4 separate regions of the Homo sapiens genome follow, and all the other regions are linked to region 3. The links come from fine-mapping of genetic effects on plasma protein levels. A gene starts in region 3. Each other region holds a variant in brackets. All regions are shown on one strand. Distances are between the middles of the regions.

Region 1 (8,106 bases), 18 kb after region 3:
TATCATCCCTCATCTTTAACCTCTCTAAATCCATAAAAAGAAACAGTGGGATGAAGAAAAGAAAGAAATAACCTAAGGACTCTAGTAAAGGGATGAATTAAAGTGTCTGAATTATTCATTATTGGGGTTATTAAGCCATTTTCTGCCTTATGCATGTTTCAAAGATATGATAACATCTTTCATTTCATTTTTACAGTTGGTGAAATTACCAAATAACTATAGGATCACATTTGAATCTCAAAACAACTCCAGAAGATAGATAAGAAAATGTAATATTACCTTTCCTGTTTTGTAGATGAAGAAACCAGTGACTTGATCAAAGTCTCTTAGCTGGTAAAAGGCAGTTCAAGTCTGGAACTTAGATCTTCCAGTTCCGTACCAACTGTCCTTTAAACTATGCAGCTGCCTTTGAATAAGCTCACGCATTTGAGCAAAATAATATTGATTTAGTTTCACATCAATACTGCATATTTAAGTCTTTGAGAATAATAATTCTGTGAATTCCAAAATTTGTCTCATTTTTGCATTTTTCATCTGGAGTTTTATTTTCTATTTCTGCAAAAATAATCTGTATTTTGTAGTCAGTGCACACCAAACTCGAATGTCTCAAAATAAATGACTTTTTACTCATCCAAGAATAAATGGTATTCATCATACTTAGCAAGGACATCATGGTTTTGATTTTTCAAAGTACTTTGCAAGCATCAGCTAATTAAGCCTCCCTGAGTCTTCAGTATGACAGTTGTTTTCAAAATATCTCTCATTTCCCAGGAAAGTTCTCCATTCTGTCTTATTTATACAATCAGCACATTTGCTCAGTTCTTAAAATAAGAAGCTAAAGGCCATGAAATTATTTTTGATCAATATGTGGCAAATACAATTAGCTCAGTGAGACAAAAATGCCCAGTGACTAGTCTAAAGGACAACGTGGAACACAATGGAAGAACACAAGGCGTTTTAAAGTCTAGATACTGGATTGTCCCACAAGGTCCTTCAAAAATAAAACACAGGCATCTTCTTTATAATTGAAACTTGAAGGGGTTTCCTGCTTGGATCATTCTAAATGACATGACCATACTCTGCGTTTAAATTTTGTTTTCAATTACAGGATGGAAAAAAACTCTTAAAAAATAGTTCCATCTTTGGACTCAGTAAAAATCAGGGACCATTCAGTAAATGTTGGCTCTCAAAAAGCCTGCACAAGTGGCCATCTGAGGTTATATGACAATCCCTAGACTTGTTCTATGCCTTAAAATATCTTCCATACAGCTACGCCAGGATTCTCAGCATTCGATAGCTCTTTTTGGGTTAAGAACAATGTGAACATACCTCTTACCTGAGAATAGAAATACATTAATTCAGGAATAATCTTTTTTCTTTTTTTTGAGATGGAGTCTCACTCTATTGCTGGAGTGCAGTGGCTCAATCTTGGCTCACTGCAACCTCCACCTCCTGGGTTCAAGAAATTCTCCTGCCTCAGCCTCCCAAGTAGCTGGGATTACAGGCTCATGCCACCACGCCCAGCTAGTTTTTGTGTTTTCAGTAGAGACGGGGTTTCACCATGTTGGACAGGCTGGTCTCGAACTCCTGACCTCAAGTGATCTGCCTGCCTCAGCCTCCCAAAGTGGTGGGATTACAGGCATGAGCCACAATGCCCAGCCCTAATTCAGGAATATTCCTATTTCCTCGGTATGGTTTAGATGCATGCAAAAAACAAAGATTTAAAAGTATAGAATATAGGATAGGTGAGTTTGTGTTTAATGAGTGAACTAAAAGTAAATATGTTCTGGAACTAGCTCCTGGGAAGCTTGAAATCCCCTAGGGGAGGAAGATACGGAAAAGGGGAGGAGAAACACTAAGGTTCTTTTCCCTTATATCACACTTAATACAAGACATATGTAGTTAATACAAGATATAAATGACTCTAATGATATTACTGATGACAGGCAGCAGGCAGAACAATGAAAATAATAATCATTTGCATGTGTAAGGTACTTCAGAGTTTGCAAAGAGCTTCCTCACCTCACCTTGCAAGGAGCTACCTTTGACATCGGAAGGAACTGGTATTCCCATCCTATATATGAAGTTTGGAGAGAGAAAGTAATTTGTTCAAGGTAGTATTTAGTACTTGGCAAAGCCAGGGCCCAAAGCCAGAACTTCTGGCTTCTAGTCTGTAGCCTGTTCACTAGTCTGTTTGGGGAGAATATTGGATACTGAGTCCAAAGCTCAGCGTTTCTAATTCTTGCCCACCTCTTAAGCCTTGTACATTTGGCCAAATAATTTAGACTCTTCAAATTTCTGTTTCTTTACATTTAAAAATTCTGTCCCTCCTTTCTTCATTGAATCAAATGAGACAGTATATAAGAAAACACTTTATAAACTGTGAAATGCTAAATAAATACAAGGAATGTATAACTAAATCCATCTTAATAAGTTAATATTCCTTGGAACCCTGCCTCAAGACATCCTTACAGTTAAACTTTCCTCCCTTTTGTGTTAAAGAATAAAGAGTTCCTCCTTCTCTTTGGAGTTAAACCTTTCACATGTGCTTTAATAGTAGACCAGTAAATATGTATCCAGGATTTACCAAGATGGTATTGTCTCACTTAATCTTCATACTATTTTATAGACAATGAGCTGAAGCCCCCAAAAGCTACACAATTTGCTTATTTACGCAAATTAAGTATTACAGCCTATGACATCCTGTTTCAGAACTTATGCCTTTAATTGTTATGAAATATTGTCTTGCTAATGGTTTTGGCAACTGGTCTGTTTTGCCTTATTTTGGTTTTCGGTTGCTGTAAAACAGTATGCTCTCACATTAAATGGCTTAAAATCACATCCCTGTATTTGCTCATAATTCTCCAATCTGGATTGGGCTCCACTGCATGATTCTTCTGCTGATTTTGTCTGGAGTTAATTCATCTGGCTTCAGTGAGCTAGGAACACATCTGGGGCTGAATCATCCAGGAGGGTCTGTTATCCTGCAAGGTTCCAGCCACATGGTCTCTCATCATTCAATAGTCTGGGTCAAGCTTTTGTACAGCATGGCTGATAGCTTCCACCAAGAGGAAAAACTCCAATGTGCAAAGGTTTACCAAGTTTCTGCTGGCATCATGCTTGCTAATGTCACATTGGTCAAAGCAAATCACAAGGTTAAGGCCCACATCATAGGGAAATGAAGCCCAGAAGTTGTGGTTTACTGGGGGTCATCATTGTTTACCATTATCTCCTCTCTTACCCTTTATCTTCAATTTTTCCTTATTTACCTGTCTTTTCCCTTCAGCACAGAAGGGAAATCTGGGGCCGGGCATGGTGGCTCATGCCTGTAATCCCAGTACTTCCAGGGGGCTGAGGCAGGTGGATCACCTGAGGTCAGGAGTTTGAGACCAGCCTGACCAACATGGTGAAACCCCCATCTCTACTAAAAATACAAAAAAATTAGCTGGGTTTGGTGGCGCATGCCTATAATCCCAGCTACTCAGGAGGCTGAGGCACGAGAATTGCTTGAACCCTGGAGGTGGAGGTTGCAGTGAGCCTAGATCACGCCACTGCACTCCAGCCTGGAAAACAGAGTGAGACTCTGTCTCAAAAAAAAAAAAAAAGAGAAAGAAAGAGGAAAGGAAAGGAAAGGAATCTGAATGATCACATTCAAATACAAATATAAATTTCCTGTAACTGCATATTCCCTTTAAGCTACCACGTTACTCTCCTTTGCACAGCCAATCATTTTTAGAGTGGTCTACACTCACTGCCCTCACTTCATCACTGCCTGTTCATTCTCCAATCACTGCAGGCTGGCATCCACCGACACCACAGCAACAAAACTGCTCTCCCTGAGATCCTCAATAACCTCTGCACTTCCAGAGGCAATGGATAATTTCCTGACCTTGTTTGCTTTGAACTCTCTGTGACATTTAACACTTCCCTTTTCTCATGTGACTCTTCTTTCTCTCACTGTTTGTATCTTTAGCTCTTCCCATCCTCTGATGGTGCCTAATGATCTTCACTCCCCAGGGTTCTGGCTCCAGCTCTCTGCTCAACTGGTTGAATAACTGCTCATGCTACAGCATGCAAGCTACATCTGTAACCCCAAACTCCATGCTTACCTCCAGACCTATCTACCCAAGTATCTACTAGATATCTCTACTCAAATTCAACAAGCCCAAAACTAATCCACCGTCTGTCTTCTAAAACCAAACCTTCCTCCTATAATCCTTCACCTTGGTAATTAATACCACCATTTACTAAGTTGTTCATATGAGAAATGTGACTCAAGACTTTTCCTTCTCATATTCCTACAATATCTAATTCGTCATTAAGTTTTATCTGTTCTTTTTTTAATTATTTCTTAGAACTATCCAGTTGTGTTTTGGTAAATGAGCAACCCATTCTCTGAGAGAGGGAGAGGTGGGTGACACTTGATGGTTTTCATGGTGTGACTGATCCTCCCACCACAACTGATTTTGATGCAGGATATTTTCTTGACCCCTTCACGGAACTCGCGGCAGGGGTGCCTTGTTTACTCAGCCCGCCCTGCTCAATCCCTTGCAGGAGGGAGTGCGCAAGCGAATGACTGCAGGAACCTGAGCGAGCGAAGGCAGGAACTGGCCACTTTGGCACCAGCAGGAGCAAACTCCATGTGGGCCCCTCACCAGCGTCCAGGTGTGGGCACCAGCCACGCCAAGCCCCAGAGGGCGTGTAACCATACTCTTAGCTCCACCGTCCGCAGACAGCAGTGTGTTATCAGCTCAGTGAGCCCTTTGCCTCATCACGTAGGGCAACTGCCTTCCGCCAGCAAGGGCAAAGGGCCAGTGCGACCGCCTTTTTGG[A/G]TACCTGCACGTAGTGTGTCCGAGTTCTTGTCCAGTGCCCAAGAGGAATGAGGTCACACAGATGAATTGAAGGATGGCGAATGTGGAGAATTTTTTTTTTCAGTGACGAAAGCGGCTCTCAGTGGAGAGGTGAGCTGGAAAGGGAATGGGAAGGGAAGATCCCTCTCCTCTGAAGTCAAGCCACCTCTCTCCTATGTCCAGGCGCTTCTTCTCGACATCAGGCTGCTTCTTCCCTCTGCTGGCTGAGTTCTGGGGTCTTTATGGGCACAGGATGGGGACGGGGCAGGCCGTAGGTAGTTTTGGAAAAGGCAATATTCAATTGGTAAAAAGACAGTATTCAGAAATAACCAATCGGGAGAGAATGGAAGTTCTCACTTTGGGCTGTGGGTTTCAGGCTTTTCGGCTTGAAGGTGGGATTTTGCCAGCGACCCGCCCCTGTATGCCTACAGTTTCTCTGCCTCCTGTTGCTATCAATTTTAAGCTACCAACATGACGCCACTGAACAGAATCGGGAAGAGACATGCGGAACACATATTATATAGTATTTCCACCAACAGATATAATAGATGTAAATAACCTCAAAAGAGTAGATAATAGTAAAATAATTATGAAGTGATGAGTTTCTACTATTTTCTTTGCTTTTAACATAATTAAATTATACATGTATGTAATTTAATTTTTAATTGATGACTTTAACAACCAACTCAAAAAAGTCTTGAAATGTAACAAACAGCTCTCACAAACCAGTACAGGTTGGATCTATCCCTCTTTTCTCCACTCCTAAGACCACAGCCCAAATGTAAGGCTCTGACCACCTCACCTTGATGTTACAATTGTCTCTCACAGGTCATGCTACTGGTCTGTCCTCCACACAGCTGTCACACATACAAATCTGGTTATATCATCACCCCTGTCCACACATGTGTGCACACACACAGACATACACACATGCGTGCACACACAGACACTTACAATAATTCTTTGGGTCCCTATAGCTCTATGGCTGGAATTTTTAATTCCTTGTTTAATGCACTATGACTTTTACAATATGGCTATCTGCTTACTTTTGAGCCTTATCTACCCCAGCCCACTTCCCCTATTGACAGCCTAGAGACCCAAATATTAACATCCTAGAGACTCGATGCTTCTGCAACTTCACCCATGCTGCTGCCTGCCACCCTCTAGAGTACATCTAGCTGTGTGAGAACATCCTTCATACAGCTAACTACTGTTTATTAGTTTTCAAACCTCAGATCAAGAATTACCTTCTCTGGAGGTCATCTCTATACAGTAGTTAAGAACACTGTAGTTAAGAACACAGACAGACCTGATATCAAACAGAAGTGTTAAATATCTGCTGTGCCACTTCCTAGCTGTGTAACCCTGAACAAGTTACTTAATCTTTATGCCCGAGTTTCCTTACTAGTGAAATGATTACAATAATGTGCTTACCTGATAGAACTGTTCAGAAGGTTTAAAGAATATGTGTGTGCAAAGCTCTTAGAATAGTGCCTAGAACTTAAGTACTTTGGATGTAGTAAAGTTAGCTATTATCAACTACCTAATTTAAAAATGCCTCCTATCTCTCTTTCCATTGCATTATGTACATAATCATCACATTACACTATATGATTTTATATAAATATATTATATATTTATAGATACATTATTAGTATATACATATATAGATACGTGTATATAATACATATATAGATACATGTATATAAGTATATAGATTATATATGTACACATATAGTATACATTTAGCCCTCAACCTGTGGGATCTGACACTATCTCCAGGTGCACATACATAGTATATACACATATGTATACTATATATATATATATATACTTATATACATGTATCTATATATGTATATATTTATCTATATACGTATCTACATTACATACATATATGTATCTATACACACACACACACACACACACACACACACACATATGTTTCATCCACGGTTCCTGTCTCATAATTCCCATAGACCTTTTTATAATGTTATAATGTTGGTGCATTTTAGGCCTCATAAGCGGACCTCAGAATAACAGGATTTCTCTCTCTCTAATCTTCTATTTTTTTACCTGCTACTTTTTCTCCCCAAGGCAGGACTCTAATCTTCCTCTGCCTTTACCTACCTTGTGTGATTGTAGGTCATAAGACCCCCATTTCAGAAGGGGTTCTGCCCCATATTCTGGAGGAAGGAATGTTGCATGGAGAGGCCAAGAAGAGGCCCAGCACAGTGATCCATGTCTGTAATCTCAGCACTTTTGGAGGCCAAGATGGGACAATCGTTTGAGCCCAGGAGTTCAAGACCATCCTGGGCAACATAGGAAGATCCTGTCTCTACAGAAAAAAAAAAAATTAATTACCCAAGTGTGGTGGCAATCACCTGTAACCTCAACTACTTGGGAGGTTGAGGTGGGAGCATGCTTGGGCCCAGGAGGTCAAAATCACGCCACTGCACTCCAGCCTCACAGTCAGAGTGAGACCCACCTCAAAGGAAAAAAAAAAGAGGCCAAAAAGAATCTGAACAGATGGGCCTTACCGGGTTTCCCCACTCAGCCTTTGAGTACTAAAGCATACCCTTTTTGTCTAAACACATTTCTATGTGGTTGTCAATGGTGCCTATCCTTTCATGAAGTCTCCATAAAAGGCCCAAGGGGACGAGGTTTGAAGAAATTACAAGATAACTGAACCTATGGAGGTTCCTAGAGGGTGTGTTCCGGGGAGGGCTTGGCAGCTCTGTGCCCCTTCCCCCATACCTCACCCTTTGCATCTCTTCACTTGTATCTTTTTGTAATATCCTTTATTATAAACCAGTAAATCTAAGTAGGTGTTTCCCTGAGTTCTGTGATGCACTCTAGCAAATTAATCGAACCCCAAGAGGGAGTCATGGAAGCCCAACTTGAAACCAGTCAGCCAGAAGTTCTGGAGGCCTGATCTTGTGACTGGTATCTGGGAAAGGGAAGATGTCTTGTGAGACTGAGCCCTCAACCTATGGGATCTGACGCTATCTCCAGGTACACAGTGTCAGAATTCATTTGGAGGACACTCAGCTGGTGCCTGCTGCAGAGTTGATTGCTTGCATGTTGATGACAAAAAATCTCCCACATTTGGTCACAGAAGTCTTCTGTGTTGATTGTAGCGTGGTGTGAGACCACAGGAAAAGCAGTTAGAGATTTTCCACACCCAGAAACTCTTAAGAGAGAAACTATGTGTCCTTGTGCTTAGGCAGTGTCTAGTAAGTACTCAATGAATGAA
Region 2 (8,090 bases), 110 kb after region 3:
ACGAGGTCAAGAGTTCAAGACCAGATCAGCCTAACCAAGATGGTGAAACCCTGTCTCTACTAAAAATACAAAAAAAATTAGCCGGGCGTGCGCGCGCCAGTAATCTCAGCTACTCAAGAGGCTGAGGCAGAAGAATCGCTTGAACCCAGGAGGCGGAAGTTGCAGTGAGCCGAGATCGCGCCACTGCGCTCCAGCCTGGGCGACAGAGCGAAACTCCTTCTCAAAAAAAAAAAAAAAAAAAAAAACGCATTAGGGAGAAATGCTATTCCTACAAGCTGAGCCGAGCTAGAGGTTTCAAGCTTGAAGTCAGTGGGCCCAAGGATCATAAACTGGCAGCGCGACAATAACCATGGAAATCACTCAGTCCTCCTCCCTCCCCAATCTCCAAGCAAAAAGTCCAAAATAGTTATGTTTGTCTCCAAGATAAAATCAAAAGTTTTTTAGAAATGAAGGGGTAGGACCCCTACTGTGAATACTGGTGTTAAGAGTACACAGCAGAAACTTAGGCTTAATAATTTTACAGTTCACACGGAGGAAATAAACAGCTATACTCAGCAGAGAAGTTGCTCCACCACTACTGCAAAGCCTGAAGCAAAAGGCAGGTTCCCAGTCTACCCATCTGGTACCTGCTCACATGCCCTCAACTGAAACCTTCCTATCTAGGCAACCTGGTACAGAGCCAAAAGTCAATTAGCGACCCATGTACTGAAAACAAGACCTATTACTCATATTAATCAAAATATAGACAGATAACCAGTGCCCATCACATGTTCGAGAAAAAGCAACAGAAGGAAACAGGACCAAAAAGACACAGAACAATTGACCAACAGTAAGTAAATTATTTAGGAAATAGATTTTTCTAATTATCATCTTTGTAGATTCAAGACTTTTAATATCTATAAAATAAGAAAAGGCTGCTGCACCTAGGACCCTGTGTTTACTAACTCAAAGAATAAAAACTGGAGAAGGGAAGAACAGAAGGAGGCAGTGTAAGACACCATAAATCCCTAAATTTAACCACAATAGACAAATTATTAAAAAAAAGGAGGTAGATAGTAAATATAATATATTGTCCACCCTGGAAAGGGGACAGGGGGAATAGTGATTTTACTTTTCATTTTACATTTTCAAGTTGTTTTAACTATGTACATGTATTAATACTAATAATAATGTTTTAAGTATTAACCATAAAAAAATGGCACGGGACACCACCACCCCAAACAATTGCTATTTAAACTCTCTCGTGATACTAACAATGATTTACAGAGAATGGCAAATTTCAAAATCAGAAGTCAAGAAGGGTCCCTGCCACTCGTTTTCCTCAAAAGGCAGATAAAATATTTTAGAGCCTTTTTGAAAACTTGTATATGACTATAAAAACCCGAGAGGCAAAGCAAAGCCTACAGAATACGCCAGAAAAAAAAGCTGCTTCCCACCCCCAACTCAAGGTCTAGGGCAAAGGAGCCGGTAGTAGGAGGGTGGAATACCTGAACGCCTGGATGCCGCGGCAGCGCGAGGACCTGATAGTCACAGAGGCCAAGGCCAGAGAGAGAGACACCGCGGCTAAAGCCTTTCCCAGGAGGCGTCCCGCCATGAGCGCCCCGAGGGCGGCTTTGCGATGCTAGGTCGCTCTTAGTTGGTGCCTCCGCCTCCCCACACCCCACAGCTCCGAGTCCCGGCCGCGGGTATCTGATGGGCACTAGGACCTGTCTGCCGTTGGGTTCCCGAACGGGAGTAGCTGTGCCTATCTATAAATCACAGATCAAGAGCCCTCCCACGATAAGAGTCCACCGCTTTCCCCAGTGCATCGAGAAAAATCCAGACCAGCACGTGACGCCGAAGCCTCCAGCGCCAGCTGCCTGGGGAAACCGCGGCCACGAACCTCGTAACTTTCTCTCTGCGTAATGGCGCTTTACGGCCGCGCCGCAAAGCAAAGGTCGTGCGTTGCCGGCTTGGTAGCGCCTTCCTTCTCCGACTTCCCAGACTTCCCAGTCTGCGCAGGCTTACTTGGGGACGCAGGGAACTACCAAGAAAGTGTCAGAGGAAAGGAAAGGTGAAACAGACGAGGAACTGGAACGGGAATAAGTGGGAAAGAAGCCAAGGGGTTTGAGAGAGACTTGCTGCCCTGGGTTTTTGGTTTTTGTTTTTTGAGACAAGAGTCTGGCTCTGTCGCCCAGGCTGCAGTGCAGGGGCGCGATTTCAGCTCATTGCCGCCTCAACCTCCTGGGCTTAAGCGAGTCTCTTGTCTCAGCCCCCGACGTAGCTGGGACTACAGGCACACACCGCCATACCTGGCTAATTTTTGTATGTTTTGTAGCGACAGATTTTTGCCATGTTGCCCAGGCTGGTCTCCAACTCTCAAGCTCAAATAATCCAACTGTTTGGGCCTCCCACAGTGCTGAGGTTACAGGCCTCAGCCAACGCGCCTGGCCCTGCTCTGGTTTTTTTAGGGAGTAAGTTGTTGCGGAAGGACGCAGGTCTTAGCCATATTTTTGAATAATACTTCGTTATGGGAATGAAACCGCCTTTGCAAAATTATGACTGATTTGGGAGGCCGAGGCGGGATCACTTGCAGTCAGGAGTTCAAGACCAGCCTGGCCAACGTGGTGAAACCTCGTCTCTACTAAAAATACAAAAATTAGCTGGGCATGGTGGTAAACGCGCCTGTAGTCCCAGCTGCTCAGGAGGATGAAGCAGGAGAATCGCTTGAACCCGGGAGGTGGAGGTTGCAGTGAGCCAACGTCGCACCACTGCACTCCACCCTGGGCGACAAGAGTGAAACTACGTATCAAAAAAAAAAAGAAAAAACCTCTGCTCCCTGAATGCTCAGGGAGACTGATTTGAGTAATAATAGAACTCCGGTCTCACACAGCTGGCTCTGCATGAATTACTCTTTCTCTATTGCAATTCCCCTGTCTTGATGAATCAGCTCTGTCTAGGAAGCGGGAAAGGTGAACCCCTTGGGCGGTTACAGCAAGAGGAGATAGTCCAGAGACTCAGCCCTCGTATCTTGAAGGGTTTCTTGGTTTTTTGTTTTTGTTTTCTTAACCAAGTTGTCTGCTCCAATTGCTGGATTTCATTCACAAGGCTTTGCTAGGACCAGTTGTGGCCCTTGGAAACTCGTGGAGGAGAAAAGCTGTGAAAATAGGCACACATGCTGGAGGAGGAACAGAGGGCAACACACATAATACTGGATAATAAACTTGAGAGGCAAAAATTAAACAAACCGACAAACAAAGTTGGAAACCCAGACTGTCCAAAGCAGCTTGTAATCAGGCTTACTTCATTTATATTAGCTTATTGATGTGGCAACTATTTGACTTTTACTTACATGATCCGCTGTTTCTGTGGTGTGGTTCCAATACACCGACGTTACAAAACTTTGACCATCTTAAAAGCCAGATTAATCGAATTTTAACAACCATTGTTCTGAAAACTGCAGAACTCTCGACAGGTATTGACTGTTCAAACTACACTGTCAACCTAGACGCTGAGGCACGAGATAGAACTTAAAGCATTTACTTTAGCCAAAGTGAGGACAGCTGCCCAGAAGACCCAGACCCAAGTAACCTTAAATGTGAACTCCTGTCCACCTTTGTTACAATCAGGTTTTTAAAGGCAAAAAGGGGACAGGGAGTTGACTGATACAAAGTTGTAAAGAATTACTGGTTTGTAGAAATAGTATTGGTTAGTGGTTGGCTATACGTTAAGCTATAGGGTGCGAGTTACAGTGTCCAGTGTACCATTATTAGGTTAATTTTTAGCTACTTGTGGCTATAGTAAGCAGTTTAAAGAGATGAATGCATAACAAAGTGGGGAGTAGGATGTAATTGCTGTCTCATTTTAATGTCTCTCTGGGCCTGGTAATTTAAAAGGATTTACCTTCCTCATATAAAAGTTCTTTTCTCGGCACTGAGAGATTTGATTATACTCTAGCATAGCTTCCAGTAGCTTAAGGCCTTGTCCCTAGGCTGACCCCAGATCCCGTTAAAATGCTTCCCTGAAATCAAAACTCAATGCCTGGAGAATTTACT[G/C]TTTGTTCCAGCCAAAACTTGATGATAGGCAGATAGGTCCCTGAACCCCTTCTTAGAGCAGTCACTTTAGAAAGCTTGTTTCTCTACCCTTGGTGATGTAAGTCTACCACCCAACACAGTTTCCTCAAAGACTTGGGAGCCATCTCTTTGAAATGCAAATATTCAGAAAGATAACTCACCCTAGCTCCTAGTCCCTGTACAAGACCGGTACCTTGCTTTAGCTAGCACCACTGCCTCCTATCATAAAGATAGAAGTTTGTTTCTCCTCTGGATAAGAGCCAGTTAACAAACCCAAATGGCCTAATCACATCAATCAACAAACCACCGTGCCCCCCTGCCACCCCCCAAAACTTAAGATCCTTTTGTGCCTTTCCTTTTTGCATACCACAGCCTTTTGTTTCAGGGAAGTGTGGGATTAGTTTGTATTACACTCTTTTCCCTATTGGACTAGCATCACTGAATAAAGTCTGTCCTTACTGCTTTAACTAGTGTCCAGCTTTGTTTATTTTGACTGCTTTCTCAGGTTGAGAAGTACTATTATTGAAATGTGCATTTTAAAGATAAATATCAGTACTCGGCTTCCTCTGGTCAGATAAACTTTGCTCTCAGTGTTGTTAATCACTGCTTAAACTGGAAATGTATTAGACCGGCTCTGTTCATCAAGTTCAGCGTGTCCAAAGTCTGTTGACAAATTAGTCACTAGAGAAGACAGGAGAAAAGCAGTGAGTTACAAAGTCAACAATCAAAGAAAGGGAGCAACAGAAAGTAGTTCTCACAGGAAGCTCCTCAGACCCTAGTCTTATAACTCCATATTCCCTAAGGGGAGGCTAGCGTGAACTTAGTTTGATGAACCTGTGCAAACAACTGTACAAACAAAACCAATTCCATGGCACTGAAACAAAACTGCAATTAGCTGGGACAGCCAGATCTCCTGGGTTCCTCCCTTCAGGGATGCATACTGCACATCTGCTCAGGTGTAGTGAGTGCATGTTCTGCAACCTGCTCTTGGGTAGAAACAAAACATCTCCTCATCAAATTACCCACATCCTAAATTAGTTAAACAGATGTCATCAGAATTTAAGGAGAAGTAAGGACTTTTTAAAAATTTATGAAGCATATACCAACTTCAAGGGCATCTTGCAATAGTTGGTGAGACAGACCAAGAACACTGAGAAATGAGAATTTTTAAATAGGAAAGTGACATATGTGATTATTAGAATTGATGAGTATGTTAAAAGTAAGAGTAATTCAGAATCCCAACTATTTCCCTGATATAGTTTGGATATTTCTCCCCTCCAATCTCATGTTGAAATGTATTCCCCAGTGTTGGAGGTGAGGTCTGGTGGGAGGTGTTTGGGTCATGAGGGTGGATCCCTTGTGATAGTGCTATCCTTGTGATAGTGAGTTCATGCAAGATCTGGTTGTTTAAAGATGTATGACACCTTGTCCACCTCTTTCTTGCTCCCACTCTCGCCAAAATGTCAGCTCCCCTTTGCCTTCCACCATGATTGTAGGCTTTCTCAGGCCTCACCAGGAGCCAAGCAGATGCCCAGCACCATGCTTCCTGTACAGCCTGCAGAACCGTGAGCCAATTAAACCTCTTTTCTATTGGGGGAACTCACCCCCAATATTTCAACGTAGATTGTTTCTATTTTCCATAAGTGTCAGACAGCTGAGAAATAAAGAGAAAGAGTACAAAGAGAGGAATTTTACAGCTGGGCTGCCGGGGGTGACATCACATGTCGGTAGGACCATGATGCCCACCTGAGCCGCAAAACCAGCAAGTTTTTATTAAGGATTTCAAAAAGGGAGGGGGTGTATGAACAGGGAGTATGTCACAAAGATCACATGCTTCAAAGGGCAAAAGGCAGAACAAAGATCACATGCTTCTGAGGAAACAGGACAAGGGCAAAATCAGAACTCCTGTTAATGGTCTATGTTCAGCAGTGCACATATTGCCTTGATAAATATCTTAACAGAAAACAGGGTTCGAGAGCAGAGAACCAGTCTGACCAAAAATTCACCAGGAAGGAGTTTCCCAATCCTAGTAAGCCTGAGGATACTGCCAGAGACCAAGGCGTATCTCAGTCCTTATCTCAACCGCATAGGACAGACATTCCCAGAACGGCCATTTATAGACCTCCCGCCAGGAATGCATTCCTTTCCCAGGGTCTTAATATTAATATTCCTTGCTAGGAATATTAGTGATAAAGAATTTAGTGATATCTCTCCTACTTGCACGTCTGTATATAGGCTGTCTGCAAGAAGAAAAATATGGCTCTTTTTGCCCAACCACGCAGGCAGTCAGACCTTATGGTTGTCTTCCCTTGTTCCCTAAAAAATCGCTGTTATTCTGTTCTTTTTCAAGGTGCACTGATTTCATATTGTTCAAACACACGTTTTACAATCAATTTGTACAGTTAACACAATTATCACAGTTGTCCTGAGTTGACATACATCCTCAGCTTACGAAGATAACAGGATTAGGAGATTAAAGTAAGACAGGCATAAGAAATTATAAAAGTATTATTTGGGAACTGATAAATATCCATGAAATCCTCACAATTTATTCCTCTGCCACAGCTCCAGCCGGTCCCTCCGTTCAGGGTCCCTGACTTCCCACAACACTTTTTTTTATAAATTACCCAGTCTCAAGTATTTCTTTCTTTTATTCTTTTTTTTTTTTTTTTTTTTTTTTTTTTGAGATGGAGTCTCACTCTGTCACCAGGCTGGAGTGCAGTGGCGCGATCTCAGCTCACTGTAACTTCTGCTTCCTGGGTTCAAGCGAATCTCCTGCCTCAGCCTCCCGAGTAGGTGGGACTACTTGGCCCATGCCACCATGCCCAGCTAATTTTTTGTATTTTTAGTAGAGATGGAGTTTCACCATGTTGGCCAGGATGATCTTGATCTCTTGACCTCGTGATCTGCCCTCCTTGTCCTCCCAAAGTGCTGGGATTACATGTTTGAGCTACCGTGCCCGGCCTCAAGTAGTTCTTTATAGCAATGCAAGAATGGCCTAACACATTCTCTTTTTTTTTTCTGCATTTATTTAGTCATTGTAAACAAACATTCTCTGAAAAGGAATTTGGAGGAAAGAGACTTTATTCCAGTGAACAGTTTGCAAACCAGGGAAACACAGCCTTTGGTATAAAACAGAAGTGTGCTCCAGAGAACAGAGAGACGGTTTGGATTTTATAACCAAAATTGCCACCCAGATTACTAACTAGGTCTGTTTACACAAATGAGGGATTCAAGCTAGCTTAATTCTGATTGGTTGGCACAGCTGAGCTTATTGGTTGGTTCAGGTGAGCTCTGTAAATCCCAAAGTTCAATAGAGGTGTGAGTTTTCAGTGAACTCAGAGTATGTGGGTGACCTTTAGTAGGCAAATGGCCACTTGGCTCTGTTTAAAATTTGTTAGCCACGTGGGATCCATCTTAAAGGATTTCCTCTTTCAGGTTTGCATTTATTCACATTATACCATAATGACGAATAATACTATTTACCAAGCATACCACCCCAGGTGCCATGAATACAGTTGTGAACAAAATGGACAAGGTCTTACTCTCATGAAGCTTACTTTATATGAGAGGGAAATAAACATTAATAAGTAAACCAATAAACTAGGAATTCCAGATTAGGAAAATTGTTGTGAAGGAAATAGATAACTGCTGAGGGACAGGATAGTTGAGGGAGAAGTGACTACTTTAGATTGCAGGGGAAGGATGTCTTTTCTGATGAGGTCACTTTTGTGCAGAGACCTAAGGACATGAAGCTGCCAGTCATTGAAAAAGCTAGGAAAAGAGCATTCAAGGCAGATAAGACTGTACCTTGAAAAAAAGATCTGAGGTAGGAAAGAAATAAAAATAATAATCAAGGAGGCTGGGCACAGTGGCTCACTCCTGTAATCCCAGCACTTTGGGAGGCCAAGGCAAGTGGATCATCTGAGGTCAGGAGTTCAAGACCAGCCTGACCAACGTGAAACCCCTTCTCTACTAAAAATACAAAATTAGCTGGGCGTGGTGGTGGCTGCCTGCAATCCCAGCTACTCAGGAGGC
Region 3 (8,106 bases):
ACATAATAATGTCCACATTATATTTAACAAAATATTGTGCACATTTTGCTACTGTCTTACTCGTTAATTGCTCTCTGTGTATCAAGCCTATGCCTAAGACCAAATAGAGGGTATGACTAAACCCATAGAAGGGCTGGCCTGGGAAAGGATAGCTAGAATAAACTCCTGCAAGAGTCCATAGTCAGAAAATGACCCAGAGGGTTAATAATCAACACAGAACTGAGAGATCTGAAATTGTTCAGTGTCAAGTTATGATGGTACTGTGGGGGTAAGGAAATTCCACAGGCAGAGATCAGTAACTCACCTGGAATTGAGACCTCAAGATGGGTCCCAGAAGCAAGACCCACAGAGAACTAAATATCAAGGTATTAAAAACATAATGGGAAAAATATTTTAAGTGTAATGGGGTGTTATGGGCTGAATTATTTCCCCCAAAATTCATAAATTGAAGTTCTAACCCCCATTGTCACTATATTTAGAGACAGAGCCTTTAAAGAGGTAAATTAAGGTTAAATGAAGACGTAAACGTGAGGATCTAATCCAACAGCACTGGCGTCCTTATAAAAAGAGGCAGAGACACCAGAAGCACACATGCCCAGGGGAAGGACTGTGTGAGGACACAGTGAGAAAGTGACCATCCACAAGCCAAGGAGAGAGGCCTCAGGAGAAACCAACCCTGCTGGCACCTTGATCTTGGACTTCCAGCCTCCAGAACTGTGAGAAAATTAATTTCTGCTGTTTAAGCCACCCAATTTGTGGTATTTTGTTACGCCAGCCCTAGGAAACTAATACATTGGGTAATCAAGGAAGAGGGTCCTACAGGCCAGGTCCTGGCCAAGATCAATACAGACACTCTGTTTTTACTGCAGCTTTTTCACTCACCCATACTTACCTCCTTCCTGGGGATCTCCACTATTCCAAAAGAATCATGTGACCTCTGACAATGAGCATATGCCTTGGCTCTTGGACTCCTAATAGGCAGGAAGTACATCTTTGATATCACCCAGAGGCTTCTGCTATATGTAACAAAGAAGTTCTGTATATGCTTGAGGATTAATTAACGTGTTCTCTGCTCCTTCCCCTGAATTAGGGGTTTTTAACTTCATAGAATCCCTGAGAGGATACTGGGGGGGAGTTTCATAGATGGGTTTTAGGAGCTTGCCCACAGCTTTCATCAGATTCTCAAAGGGAATCCTAACACTAAAAGGTAAAAAAAAAGAAAAAAGAAAATCCATTTAGATGTTGACATCTGTCACATCCTCTGACCAACAGTGATGTTACGTCTCTTCATGTACAGTAACATAATGAGCTTTTTGTCAAACTTTTCCCAACCCATTTGGACGTCTCATACGTTTTCTAAATCTGATCTGTAGCTCCATCTGTTAGGTGAGTATTGTTGCAGGTTTATTGTCCTCAGCTTTCTGAACTGTAAACTATTTTAGAAAAAACAGCTTCAGAAACAATGAGAGTTTGAATATCTGCCAACAAACATTTCCAAATAAAGCTATACTGAAAAGACACCGCGAATTCAAAGGCCTTTTTTTATTCATTTTTCTCTCTTGTTTTGTTGTAAGAAATACAGTGGGTCTTTATTAATCATGTTATAAATTAATAAGACCTCCAATAAAACTGAAAGTCAAAATTCTCAAGCTTTGCCACCTACAAATGAACTCTCTAGGTACCTATTTACATTTAAGAGATGAATCCAGTTTGCTTTAAGTAATTACTTTTTAGGTTAACACAGTTACATAAGAAAATTTATTTTGATCATTTTACAGAAGCATAAAATATCAATTTTAGCAGAAAAAAATTTTAGTCGGGTAACTTTTTTTCCAGAGCCCTTTAAATGAAATTTTTTTCTACATTCTCGTTGAATTGATGTAATCACCTGAAATCAATCTTACAAAGCCATCTTAAATAAATGGGGAATGCTAGTTAGAATAAGAAGTTAATATTTTGGGTCCCCAAGAAAATTTTCTTTAGCCAACTAAGGCCAAATCCTCAGAAATGCTTTTCTTACTTATTCTGCAATAGTCTCACTGCTCCCAAGCCCCTTGGGAGACTTGGAAAAATGGTCTGTGTCTTCCACACTTCTCAGAGCAGATGTGCACAGAGGATGTGCACACCAGGGAGAAGCATGGTCAAACACTGCCCACCCCTTTATCCTTCCTCCGAGGAGATTGCTCAACCCCTAGACCTTGGCTAAGGAAAAACATCCTATTGTCTGAGGCAAAAAGACATCAAGTCCTTTCATGCTGTCCTGGGAAAGGCGGTTTGGAACAAGTTATCCTGATTCTAGAGACGTGAGTGTTCCCAGCTGCACCGTGACTTGTTTTTGGCTCCTAGGCAAAGTGCCCAGTTTCCTCTGCTCCCAAATTTCTCCAACTGCAAAGTAGAGATAATCCTTGTTACCTTTTTCTTGCAGTGTTCTGAAAATAAATAGGGCAAATAATTCTAAAGTGTTTTGAGAGATTTGGCTGAGGGCATATTTGCCTAGAAATGTAGGTGGGGGTTTTTGGTTTATTTTGGTTTTATTTTGTTTTTGTCAGTGTTTTTGCTTTTGGCCAGACGTTGGCATGCATTTAGAAAATCTAAATTAAATTAAATTAAATTATAATTATTCATCTGATGATAATGGAACATTTACAGGATGCAAAGCACTGTGCTAGGCACCAGGAGAATGCAGAAAGGGCACATCCCCTTCCTTCAAGGAGTTTACAGCTTTCTCAGAAGCAGGTATGATATATATATGTGTCTATATCACATAATAGAGGGATTATAGATAAGTTACACAAGTGTGGCTGTCAGCCATGGTAGCTGATTTGGAATCCCATCCTGTAAGTTACAGTTGGATACCCTAGAAAAAACACCCTTACTAAGCTTTGGTTTCCTCTTATGTAAATGATAATAGCTAACATTTATTGAGTGTCTGCTACGTGGCAGGGGTGTTCTATGCAGTTTATCATGTTAACTAACTTAAAACTCAGAACAATTGCAGAGATAGATATTATCATCATTTCCATATGTATATCCCTGTCTTATAGATAAAAGCACTGATGCTTTAGAGAGGTTATATAACTTGTCCCGGGTCATAGTTAGGAAGTGGTGAAGATAGGATGCAAATCCAAGCTGGCTGGCCTCAAATTCTGCCAATCCAACCACTGTATGACACTACCCCTCAAATGGGAACACAGTAAAACTTACCATGCGTAGTGAGGATCAACTGATAATAACGCATAAAAAGCTGTTAGCACAGTGTCTGACACATAATAAATGTGTGATAAATGTAGAAGTAGCAGTAGAAGAGATTAGACACATACAAACAACCAGAATCCCGGGCCAAAAATAAGTGCACACCTCCATTCTTTTTATGGGAAACCTCCTTCTTAGATACCAACCATTATAACCATGGAGTTACAGTGGAGAGCTGTGTTGAGGGGAGAACTGCAACATTTCTGAATCAGCATACAAGTGATCTATAATATAAGGAGCAATCATTTTTATATATGTCCATTTCCAAATCTCATTCAAAGAAGGTTAAGGTATCTGAAGTACCCTTCTATTAAAATTCAGACTGTATTTGCTAGAACAATTTCCAATTGAGCAACGTAAAAATGCATCTGCTGCCATTTCTCTTCTTCCCTCCTTTAATCCCTACTCCCCAATTTCCTTTAGAAAGAAACAACAGCATGGAGTTTCTTTTCAAGGTCTTAAAATAAAAATCTCCAAAAAAGGGATGCTGCTTATAAAACCTTTCAGAGTTGTTTGAAAAAGAAAAAAAATGCATAAAGAGCCAAGTGCTTATATTCTGGCCAAGTTATGAGGCTCTGAGAACAAGAGCTTGAGGGGAAGACTGTTAACCCCATCCACGCCACCAGAATTAGCTCTTTCCCTTTTGGTTTGCAAGCACTGCCTGTAAAGCCCTCGCATGAGAGGCCAGCCTGCTAGGGAAATCCAGGAATCTGCAACAAAAACGATGACAGTCTGAAATACTCTCTGGTGCCAACCTCCAAATTCTCGTCTGTCACTTCAGACCCCCACTAGTTGACAGAGCAGCAGAATTTCAACTCCAGTAGACTTGAATATGCCTCTGGGCAAAGAAGCAGAGCTAACGAGGAAAGGGATTTAAAGAGTTTTTCTTGGGTGTTTGTCAAACTTTTATTCCCTGTCTGTGTGCAGAGGGGATTCAACTTCAATTTTTCTGCAGTGGCTCTGGGTCCAGCCCCTTACTTAAAGGTAAGTTGTAATAAATTTACGGCATTATCTAATTGCATTTGTTAAGCTGATTTGCGTGATCTGATAAAGCTGTCAAATATTTTTGCCTAAATAATACAAAGCCATTTATTTACCAAAAAAAGTTTTGTGTGATTTACAGAAAAGATACTTCATAGAGAATTTTACCATTTGTATTCATGTTTTCTTGTTTCCTGCGAAATTAAATAGCAAGTACTAATAAATGATGGTGATTTTAGTGAAGACCAAGAATAGAAATGTGGAACTGTTGATCGCCTCAGTAGCATTCAGATCTTAGTGAAGCCTGAATCCTGAAATGTGTTTTGTAGAAGTACTTTATTACATATATGAAATAAACTATAAAGAAGGTAGTTTTTAAAAAAAATTTCAAATCAAATAATTTGTATGTTTTCCATGTTTAAATTATCTAAAGTTATTCAATCTCCTGAGCCTAACAGCAATGTAGAAACGGAACTTTTTGCTTTTCCAAAAGGTAGGAAAATTTCTCCTTTTATACTATATTCTTGTTTGATTATTTTTAAGTTATTGCGATTATTTTCCCTTTCTTGGTTCCCTTTTACAGCTTTATAACTAATTATTTTTTGCCTCCTACTATCATTTGTTAAGATGCTCACACATAGACCTAAAATTTCTCTAATTCTTGATAATGTCTTATTTACAAAAGCAAAAATGGGAGAAGAGAATTAAAGAGCTAAAGAGATTATGGTAACTCATATTATAATGTACTACCATTTCTGGCTCTCTTTTCTAAAATAAAGCAATAATGTAGGTTGTGCTTATTCATCCTTCCCAGGTATTAAAGGTCACTCTGCAAGAGAAAAAAAGAAAAGAAAGGAAAAGAAAAGAAAAAAAAACATGCTTTTAACTGCAGATCAATACTGTTGAAACAGTACACCAAGAGGTACTGCAGAAAGAGTATCTCTTTTGCACTGCCTTTAATCTGCAAAGAGGTTAAATATGTCACCTTGGCATTGTATCTGAGCTCTCCTCTGGCCCAGGGCCTAAGCACATTGAATAGAAATGTTCACTCAGTCCAAGTCAGCAGAAATCTTTTTTTTTTTTATTCTCCCCTTTCTCGTAGACACCAGCTTTTTTCAGTTCACAGCTTACTCAGTCAAACCTGATGGTTGTGACTATTGTTAACTATGATTTTTTTTTTATTCAAAACACCCTCTTTGGAAAGATTTAAGTTAATATTTCTGTTCATTTAATAAGATCTAGCAAAGCAGAGCAGTTTATTTCATCTACTTATCGTCCAATCAACTAGTGCCACTTTCCACATTTTGGAGAAGAATATTCACATGTTATTTATGAACCTTGCCTTTTTCTTTCAGAGAATTTTTCACACAGCCATTGAGCAATTAGAGTGCTGGCATTTCCTTCCTAGGTCTTTTGAGATTTAATCCCCAGTAGCTCCTCATGGCACAGATTCACATATCAACTAAGTAAAAATAATAGTGATGACAGAAATAAAATGAATAGTGATGCATCTGGACAACTTGAAAACATTATTTATTTCATTTCCTCTTGACTGTTCTTTTTACTCAGTTGACTTAAACACTGCTATTTTACTTAAGTTTAGCACCATATCCAGAACTGGTTGGGAACATTTTTCTACCGAGAAGGGCATAAACAACTTGTTAGAAGATCTGAAGTGCACATAGTCCTCACTTATCCCTCTAGAATGATCTTCAGTGGAGAAGGAGACCCCCATAAATAAATCCAGTAGAACTTCCCAGTAGGCCTGGCTTCCTGAGAGATGTCCAACCAGGCCAGGGTCTGTTTCTTACGGGGCTCACAGGGCATCTTCTGCCAAAGGCTGAGTTAGCGATGATAGCATTACCTAGGGCTAGCCTGGCTTTTGTCTTAGTCATCAAAAGATGGATAGAACTTTGAAAAACAGAGTGCATGGTCTTGATGATTGTTCCAAAGGTGGGGAGGCAATCTAATAAAGTGAATAAGGCCATGACCTGTGGTTTATATCTGACCATATGGACCCTGTTTATATAAGACCGTGGTTTATATCCAAGCTTTACCACAAAATAGCTCTGTGACTTTGGGCAAACAACTTCATCTCTTTGTGCCTCAGTCTCTTCATTCATGGAAATGGGATTATAAAATCAGTAGCTACCTCAGAGATTTGTTGTAAGAATTAAGTGAAGAAAAGAGCCATGTTTGGTACATTAAAGCAATCAATCAATCGTAGATAATATGAAAGTACTGGACTAACTATATGTCCCTATTGAAACTCCGTAGAACGGGAACTGACTCTAGATATTTTCTCAGGGTTTCTTCCTTGTACTTATACGTTTTGCTCTATAATAAAATATGAATGCCAGGTGTATGCCTCTGAGGCAGCACAGCAGAGTGGACAGAGCATGGGCTTCAGAGTCCAATGCATCTGGGCTAGAATCCTGACTCTGCTTCTTACAATCAGTGTAAGCTTTGGCAGTTACTTCCCACCTGCATGACTCAGTTTACTCATCTGTTTAGCAAAATGGGGATAATAATACACACAAATGAGGTCGTTGTAGGAATGAAATGTGATGTTTATTAAATGCCAAGTATAGCACCTGGCAGAGAAGTAAACACATAGGAAAGTTGACTGGTTGCTCATAAGGAATCTCGTATATCAGTGAGGCCTCTGTTACATACTTGCAATGATTTCTCTGGTAGTAACAATGGAGATCAAGAAGGAAATATTCTTTGAATTGCCTTTTTTATCCAAAGAAATGTAAAAGTAAATCGGACACTACTATTTTCCCCTGGTGGGGGGCCTCAACACGAGGTATTTATTACTATGAGACTTCACTGCTGCATCAGTTAGTAGCTTCTTAATGGCCAAGTCAAAGGAAACCAAAGAAAGTGTTCTATGCCAGCTTGCCATTACACAGAGTGAGAAGAAATGCTGCTTTGCTGTCAATTCTGTTTTATTGGCCCACTTGGACAAGAGGGAAAGCCCCCAACATTTCTTCTTTCTTATCTCTTCTAAAGGCAAGAATAGGGCTTTTGACTTGCTCCAGGGGATATTTTTTCCTCTCTAACTGAAATTCAAGTGAAAGAGTCTTTTTTTTGTTTTTTTGTCTTTGTTTGGTGTTTTTGTAAACCTCTCCCCTATGTTCCTAGCATTGAAATGTAAGCTGCTTTTTCTGGCTGCATGTAGCAGGAGCAGGCTGTCGTCATAGCAATGAAAGGGTGTAGAGAGACTCCTGCTTCATGACCTGCTCTGGGAAATAACTCTTAGTCTGCTTTAAAATCCTTCTTTAGAAATGAAGTCTCCAGTCCTGGCTTGTTTCCTTCCTATTACACAACCAACTTATGTACACCCATTGCAGTAGCTAAATGTTTCCTTTAAAGATTTAGTGAATAGGTATTTTAAAAATCAACAAGAGAGCTGCTAAAACAGTGGCTAGTTTACTGTGGCATACAGGGGAAAAACAACTGGGAAGGCAAAGAAAGAGAAATAGAAATGGCCTCACATGATACACATACTGCAGCAAACCCTGCAATAAATCCATTTTTCAAGTTCCCACTGCTTCCTCCCATCTTCACGATGTGCTATGGTGTAGTGGTTATAGAGGGGAATTCTGGGGCAGACTGCCTGGACTTGAATCCTGGCACTCATACCTTCTAGTTGTTTTAATCTAATCCATTCTGTGCCTCTGTCTTCTCATCTGTGAAATAGATATAATAACAGTCATAAAATTGTCATGGGAATTGAATGAGATTGAGCATGTAAGGCATTTATTACAGTATCTAACCCATGGTAAAGGTTGGCTGCTAAGCTCAGGAGCCTCAGTTTCCCCCACTTGTGAAATGTGGATAACAGCTAATTCATAAGATCATTGTATT
Region 4 (8,106 bases), 43 kb after region 3:
CTGAATTATCTATATGCAAACAGGGAAAAGCTGATGTAGTTCTGAACACAAAAATTATCAACTGGAGAAACTTAAAAAATAAGAACTCTCAGGCCTTAACCGTAGGAGATTCTGATTTAACTGAACTAGGTTGGAATCCTGACATTGTTTTTTTTATTTGTTTTTGAAGTAACCTAGACAATTCTAATGTGCAGCCAGGGCTCAGAACCACTATGATAATGCTATCCACTTAATCACAGAGTTGAATCACTGGAATTTTGCTACATTATTTGCCCTCTTCCCAATTTAAGTTAAGCCTTTGCCAAGAAGTCTCTGACAACACATTTTTCCAGAAGTGTTTTAAGGCTGTCTTCCTTCCCCAGGATATTCTCAATTGTGTTTGGCTCCCCTTACCACTAAGTGATTCTCCACATTAGCAGTGCTCACTAATGTTTCCGGGTCTCCTCCCCTTCCAGACACAGGAGAGGATGAAACATGTCAGCCTCCTGGACGTTAGGTATGACCATATATCTTGCTTTGTCCAGGGAAATGTGAAAAAAGTCATCTATGTGAGTTCTGGGCAGAAGCATTCAAGAGCTGGGGTATGGTTCTCCATCCTCTGCTCCTTTGCCACCACAAACTCTCTTTGAGATAGTGGCCTCAAAAAATGGCAACGTCATTGGTGGCTGGCAAGATGGCCAAATAAGGACCACTCTGGTTTGCAGCTCCCAGTGAGATCAACGCAGAAAGAGGGTGATTTCTGCATTTCCAGCTGAGGTACCCAGCTCATTGGGACTGGTTAGACAGTGGGTGCAGCTCACAGAGGGGGAGCCAAAGTAGGGTGGGGTGTTGCCTCACCCAGTAACTGCAAGGGATCGGGAAACTCTCTCCCCTAGCGAAGGGAAGCTGTGAGGGACTGTGCTGCGAAAGACAGTGCATTCTGGCCCAGATACTACGCTTTTCCCACAGTCTTCGCAATCCACAGACCAGGAGATTCCTTCGGGTGCCTACACCACCAGGACCCTGGGTTTCAAGCACAAAACTGGGCCACCATTTGGGCAGACACCGAGCTAGCTACAGGAGTTTTTTTCCATATCCCAGTGGCACCTGGAATGCCAGCAAGACAGAACTGTTCACTTCCCTGGAAATGTGGCTGAAGCCAGTGAGCCAAATGGTCTAGCTCAGTGGATCCCACCCCCACAGAGCCCAGCAAGCTAAGATCCACTGGCTTGAAATTCTTGCTGCCAGCACAGCAGTCTGAAGTTGACCTGGGATGCTTGAGTTTGGTGGGGGGGAGGGGCATCCACCATTACTGAGGCTTGAGTTGGCGGTTTTCCCTTCACAGTGTAAACAAAGCTGCTAGGAAGTTCGGACTGGGTGGAGCCCACGGCAGCACCAGAAAGCCACTGTAGCTAGACTGCCTCTCTAGATTCTTCCTCTCTGGGAAAGGCATCTCTGAAAGTAAGGCAGCAGCCCCAGTCAGGGGTTTATAGATAAAGCTCCCATCTCCTTGGGACAGAGCACCTGGGGGAAGGGGCGGCTGTGGGCAGAGCAGACTTAAATGTTCCTGCCTGCCAGCTCTGAAGAGAGCAGCAGATCTCCCAGCACAGCACTCAAGCTCTGCTAAGGAACAGACTGCCTCCTCAAGTGGGTCCCTGACCCCCATGCCTCCTGACTGGGAGAAACCTCCCAGCAGGGGTCGACAGACATCTCATACAGGAGAGCTCTGGCTGGCATCTAGCAGGTACCCCTCTGGGACGAAGCTTCCAGAGGAAGGAACAGGCAGCAATGTTTGCTGTTCTGAAGCCTCTGCTGGTGACACCCAGGCAAACAAGGTCTAGAATGGACCTTGAGTGAACTCCAGCAGACCTGCAGCAGAGGGGCCTCTTAGAAGGAAAACTAATGAACAGAAAGGAATAGCATCAACATCAACAAAAAAGATATCCACACAAAAACCCCATCCAAAGGCCACTAACATCAAAGACCAAAGGCAGAAAATCCATGAAGATGAGGAAAAACCAACACAAAAAGCCTGAAAATTCCAAAAATGGGAATGCCTCTTCTCCTCCAAAGGATCACAACTCCTTGCCAGCAAGGGAACAAAAGTGGATGGAGAATGAGTTTGAGGAAGTGACAGAAGTAGGCTTCAGAACATGGGTAATAACAAACTCTTCTGAGTTAAAGGAACATGTTATAACCCAATACAAGGAAGCTAAGAACCTTGAAAAAAGGTTAGAGGAATTGCTAACCAGAATAACCAGTTTAGAGAAGAACATAAATGACCTGATGGAGCTGAAAAACACAGCACGAGAACTTCGTGAAGCATACACAAGTATCAATATCCAAATCGATTAAGTGGAAGAAAGGATATCAGAGATTGAAGATCAACTTAATGAAATAAAGCATGAAGACAAGATTAGAGAAAAAAGAATGAAAAGGAATAAACAAAGCCTCCAAGAAATGTGAGACTCTGTGAAAAGACCAAACCTACATCTGATTGGTGTACCTGGAAGTAATGAGGAGAATGGAACCAAGTTGGAAAACACTCTTCAGGATATTATCCAGGAGAACTTCCTCAACCTAGCAAGACAGACCAACACTGAAATTCAGCAAATACGGAGAACACCACAAAGATAATCCTCACGAAGAGCAACTCCAAGACACATAATTGTCAGATTCACCAAGGTTGAAATGAAGGAAAAAATGTTAAGGGCAGCCAGACAGAAAGGTCGGAATACCCACAAAGGGAAGCCCATCAGACTAACAGTGGGACTCTCTGCAGAAACCCTACAAGCAAGAAAAGAGTGGGGGCCAATATTCAACATGCTTAAAGAAAAGAATTTTCAAACTAGAATTTCATAACCAGTCAAACTAAGCTTCATAAGTGAAGGAGAAATAAAATATTTTACAGATAAGCAAATGCTGAGAGATTTTTTCACCACCAGGCCTGCTTTACAAGAGCTTCTGAAGGAAGCACTAAATGTGGAAAGGAAAAACCAGTACCAGTCACTGCAAAAACATACCAAATTGTAAAGACCATCGACACTATGAAGAAACTGCATCAACTAATAGGCAAAATAACCAGCTAGCATCATAATGACAGGATCAAATTCACACATAACAATATTAATTTTAAATGTAAACGGGCTAAATGCCCCAATTAAAAGACACAGACTGGCAAATTGGATAAAAAGTCAAGACCCATCAGC[A/G]TACTGTATTCAGGAGACCCAGCTCACATGCAAAAACATACATAGGCTCAAAATAAAGGGATGGAGGACTATTTACCAAGAATTGGAAAGCAAAAAAAAAAAAAAAAAAAAAAAAAAAAAAAAAAAAAAAAAGCAGGAATTGCAATACTAGCCTCAGATAAAACAGGCTTTAAACCAACAAAGATCAAAAAACACAAAGAAGGGCATCACATAATGGTAAAGAGATAAATGCAACAAGAAGAGCTAACTATCCTAAACATATATGCACCCAATATAGGAGCACCCAGATATATAAAGCAAGTTCTTAGAGACCTACAAAGAGACTTAGACTCCCACACAATAATAGTGGGAGACTTTAAAACCCCACTGTCAAAATTAGACAGATCAACAAGACAGAAATTAACAAGTATATTCAGGACTTGAACTCAGCTCTGGACCAAGCAGACCTAATAGACATCTACAGAACTCTCCACCCCAAATTGACAGAATATACATTCTTCTCAGCACCACATTGTACTTATTCTAAAATTCACCAAATAATTGAAAGTAAAAACTCCTCAGCAGATGTGAAAGAATGGAAATCATAACAGTCTCTCAGACCACACTGCAATCAAATTAGAACTCAGGATTAAGAAACTCACTCAAAACTGCACAAATACATGGAAACTGAACAACCTGCTCCTGAATGACTACTGGGTAAATAACGAAATTAAGGCAGAAATAAGGAAGTTCTTTGAAACCAATGAGAATGAAGACAAAATGGGCCAGAATCTCTGGGACACAGCTAAAACACTGTTTAGAGGGAAATATATACCACCAAATGCCCATAAGAGAAAGCAGGAAAGATCTAAAATTGACACCCTAGCACCACAATTAAAAGAACTAGAGAAGCAAGAGCAAACACATTCAAAAGCTAGCAGAAGACAAGAAATAACTAAGATCAGAGCATAACTGAAGGAGATAGAGACACGAAAAACCCTTCAAAAAATCAATGAACCTAGGAGCTGGTTTTTTTAAAAGATTAACAAAATAGATAGACAGCTAGCCAGACTAATAGAGAAGGAAAGAGAGAAGAATCAAATAGATACAATAAAAAATGATAAAGGGGATATCACCACTGATCCCACAGAAATACAAACTACCATCAGAGAATACTATAAACACCTCTATACAAATAAACTAGAAAATCTAGAAGAAATAGATAAATTCCTGGACACATATACCCTCCCAAGACTAAATCAGGAAGAAGTTGAATCCCTGAATAGACCAATAACAAGTTCTGAAATTGAGGCAGTAATTAATAGCCTACCAACCAAAAAAAGCTGGGGACCAGACAGATTCACAGCTGAATTCTACCAGAGGTACAAAGAGGAGCTGGTACTATTCCTTCAGAAAGTATTCCAAACAATAGAAAAAGAGGGACTCCTCCCTAGCTCATTTTATGAGGCCAGCATCATCCTGATACCAAAACCTGAAGGATATACAAAAAAAAAAAAAAATTCAGGCCAATATCACTGATGAACATGGATGCGAAAATCCTCAATAAAATACTGGCAAACCAAATCCAGGAGCACATCAAAAAGCTTATCTACCACAATCAAGTCACCTTCATCCCTGGGATGCAAGGATGGTTCAACATACGCAAATCAATGCGTGTAAGCCATCACATAAACAGAACTAATGACAAAAACCACATGATTATCTCAATAGATGCAGAAAAGGTCTTCAACAAAATTCAGTATCCCTTCATGCTAAAAACTCTCAATAAACTAGGTATTGATGGAACATATCTCAAAATAATAACAGCTATTTATGACAAACCCATAGCAAATATCATACTGAATGGGCAGAAGCTGGAAACATTCCCTTTGAAAACCAGCACAAGACAAGGATGCCCTCTCTCACCACTCCTATTCAACATAGTATTGGAAGTTCTGGCCAGGGCAGTCAGGCAAGAGAAAGAAATAAAGCGTATTCAAATAGGAAGACAGGAAGTCAAATTGTCCCTGTTTGCAGATGACATGATTGCATATTTAGAAAACCCCATCATCTCAGTCCAAAATCTCCTTAAGCTGATAAGCAACTTCAGCAAAGTCTCAGGATACAAAATCAATGTACGAAAATCACAAGCATTCCTATATACCAATAACAGACAAGCAGAGAGCCAAATCATAAGTGAATGCCCATTTGCAATTGCTACAAAGAGAATAAAATACCTAGGAATACAACTTACAATGGATGTGAAGGACCTCTTCAAGGAGAACTACAAACCATTGCTGAAGGAAATAAGAGAGGACACAAACAAATGCTCATGGATAGGAAGAATCAATATCGTGAAAATGGTTGTACTGCCCAAAGTAATTTATAGATTCAATCCTATCCCCATCAAGCTACCACTGACTTTCTTCACAGAATTAGAAAAAAACTACTTTAAAGTTGGGAACCAAAAAAGAGCCCATATATCCAAGACAATCCTAAGCAAAAACAACAAAGCTGGAGGCATCACGCTAACTAACTTCAAACTATACTACAAGGCTACAGTAACTAAAACAGCATTGTACTGGTATCAAAACAGATATATAGACCAATGGAACAGAGCAGATGGCTCAGAAATAATGCCACACATATACAGCCATCTGATATTTGACAAACCTGACAAAAATAAGCAATGGGGAAAGGATTCCTTATTTAATAAATGGTGCTGGGAAAACTGGCTAGCCATATGCAGAAAACTGAAACTGGATCCCTTCCTTACACTTCATACAAAAATTAACTCAAGATGGATTAAAGACTTAAACATAAGACCTAAAACCATAAAAACCCTAGAAGAAAACTTAGGCAATACCATTCAGGACATAGGCATGGGCAAAGGCTTCATGACTAAAACACCAAAAGCAATGGCAACAAAAGCCAAAATTGATTAATGGGATCTAATTAAACTAAAGAGCTTCTGCACAGCAAAAGAAACTATCATCAGAGTAAACAGGCAACCTACAGAATGGGAGAAAATTTTTGCAATCTGTCAATCTAACTAAGGGCTTATACCCAGAATCTACAAGGAACAGATACAAATTTACAAGAAAAAAACAACCCCATCAAAAAGTGGGTGAAGGATATGAACAGACACTTCTCAAAAAGAAGACATTTATGCAGCCAAAAAACATATGAAAAAAAGCTCATAATCACTCGTCATTAGAGAAATGCAAATCAAAACCACAATGAGATACCATCTCTCACCAGTTAGAATGGCGATCATTAAAAAGTCAGGAAACAACAGATACTGGAGAGGATGTGAAGAAATAGGAACGCTTTCATATTGTTGGTGGGAGTAAATTAGTTCAATCATTGTGGAAGACAGTGTGGCAATTCCTCAAGGATCTAGAACTACAAATACCATTTGATACAGCAATCCCATTACTGGGTATATACCCAAAGGGTTACAAATCATTCTACTATAAAGATGCATTCACACATATGTTTATTACAGCACTGTTCACAATAGTAAAGACTTGGAACCAACCAAAATGCCCATCAGTGATAGACTGGATAAAGAAAATATGACACATATACACCATGGAATACTATGCAGCCATAAAAAAGGATAAGTTCATGTCCTTTGCAGAGACATGGATGAAGCTGGAAACCATCATTCTCAGCAAACTAACACAGGAACAGAAAACCAAACACTGCATGTTCTCACTCATAAGTGGGAGTTGAACAGTGAAAACACATGGACACAGGGAGGGGAACATCATATACCAGGGCCTGTCAGGGGCTGGGGGACTAGGAGAGGGATAGCATTAGGAGAAATACCTAATGTAGATGATGGGTTGATGGGTGCAGCAAACCACTATGGCATGTGTATACCTATGTAACAAACCTGCACATTCTGCACATGTATCTCAGAACTTAAAGTATAATTAAAAAAAAAAAAAAACGGCAGTGATCCTGAGCTCTGGGGAGACTGCAATGAGCAGAGCCCTCCTGCCAACTTGTATTGGACTTGTAGCAGGATTGCAAAATTGACTTCTGTTTCTTTAAGCCACTGAGATTTAGCATTATTTCTTACTGTAGTATCAGCTAATAGCTACCTTTTTCTCTATTCAATAGCACTTGTGCCCTCCACCTACAAATTTCAACTCTGATTCTACAGCAGTGATTCTGGGGCCTAGCTGCACATCCAAATAGATCTTGGAGCTTTAAAAACATCCTGATGCCCAGACTTCACGCCAGACCAATCACATCAGAATTTACTTGATTGGAAGCTGGCATTTGGTATGTTTTTTAAAACCCCAGGCAATTTTGTTGTGCTGCTGCCAGGGCTGAGGACCACTGTCATAATAATGGGGACCTGAGAAAGCTCTGTCAGTTGCCAGAAGTCGTTAAGCTTCCTATTATGAGGACTTGCCATAGGACACAAATAAGCCCAAAGATTACAGTACATTTTCTGCTTGTAACAGCTATTCCTACTTGTACGGACTTTGAAGTGATTCAGTTTCCTCTACGGATGAGAGACTGGCTCAAGAATATCCTCATGCAGCTTTATGAAGCCAACTCTGAACACGCTGGTTATCTAAATGAGAAGCAGAGAAATAAAGTAAGTTATCCACAGGTTAGCTTCTTCAATGTCTGTCTACAGGGCATGAGGAAGAAAGACGTGGTGGGGGGGCTACCTACCTCTGCATACTGGCAAAAGCCCACTATGCTTCCCCATGCCCGGTTAGCCCATGTGGCTTAACAGAATAATAGATGTCACCATTCACGCCACAAGGTTTCAGACACCACCAAACCGCCCCATTCTTCCCAATGGTCAGTGGCCTGAATTAGGGCTCTTCAATTCCTACCTAGAGCAAGCTCTGGTTGAGCAAAGTTAATATAAATTTAGCATTGATCTAGTCAGTCCAAACATCTTATTTAA

Which allele goes with the higher level. Positions count from the first base shown, and alleles are read on the strand shown. Strength reflects both the effect of a copy and how common the allele is.
As copies of G replace A in region 1, the plasma level of the protein whose gene starts at base 3,905 in region 3 goes up (strong association).
For the plasma level of the protein whose gene starts at base 3,905 in region 3, allele G in region 2 goes with a higher level than allele C (strong association).
As copies of A replace G in region 4, the plasma level of the protein whose gene starts at base 3,905 in region 3 goes down (strong association).

The links. PIP is the posterior inclusion probability: the model's chance that the variant is causal. Protein levels are from antibody-based Olink assays in UK Biobank. Linkage for the fine-mapping came from a reference panel and not from the study's own genotypes, which makes the PIPs less certain.
Region 1: its variant is fine-mapped to the plasma level of the SPARCL1 protein (UK Biobank, PIP above 0.99).
Region 2: its variant is fine-mapped to the plasma level of the SPARCL1 protein (UK Biobank, PIP above 0.99).
Region 4: its variant is fine-mapped to the plasma level of the SPARCL1 protein (UK Biobank, PIP above 0.99).

The regions. Positions count from the first base shown.
Region 1 is chr4:87,507,467-87,515,572 of GRCh38, reverse strand. The region is part of intron 1 of SPARCL1 (SPARC like 1); the gene reads left to right. Among named protein-coding and RNA genes, the nearest start is that of SPARCL1, 18 kb to the left of the region's middle. RefSeq lists an enhancer at 4,188-4,688. The variant A/G (reference allele first, on the strand shown) is at 4,833.
Region 2 is chr4:87,416,410-87,424,499 of GRCh38, reverse strand. NUDT9 (nudix hydrolase 9) reads right to left here and starts at 1,927. Exons shown (of 8, transcript NM_024047.5): 1 at 1,488-1,927. The coding sequence starts at 1,594. RefSeq lists enhancers at 1-57, 58-561, 1,105-2,039, 2,109-2,158. The variant G/C (reference allele first, on the strand shown) is at 4,035.
Region 3 is chr4:87,525,175-87,533,280 of GRCh38, reverse strand. It overlaps SPARCL1 (SPARC like 1), which reads left to right and starts at 3,905. Exons shown (of 11, transcript NM_004684.6): 1 at 3,905-4,236. LOC124900729 (a long non-coding RNA gene) reads right to left here. Exons shown (of 2, transcript XR_007058171.1): 2 at 6,786-7,928.
Region 4 is chr4:87,482,103-87,490,208 of GRCh38, reverse strand. It overlaps SPARCL1 (SPARC like 1), which reads left to right. Exons shown (of 11, transcript NM_004684.6): 8 at 7,649-7,785. Among named protein-coding and RNA genes, the nearest start is that of SCPPPQ1, 15 kb to the right of the region's middle. The variant A/G (reference allele first, on the strand shown) is at 3,189.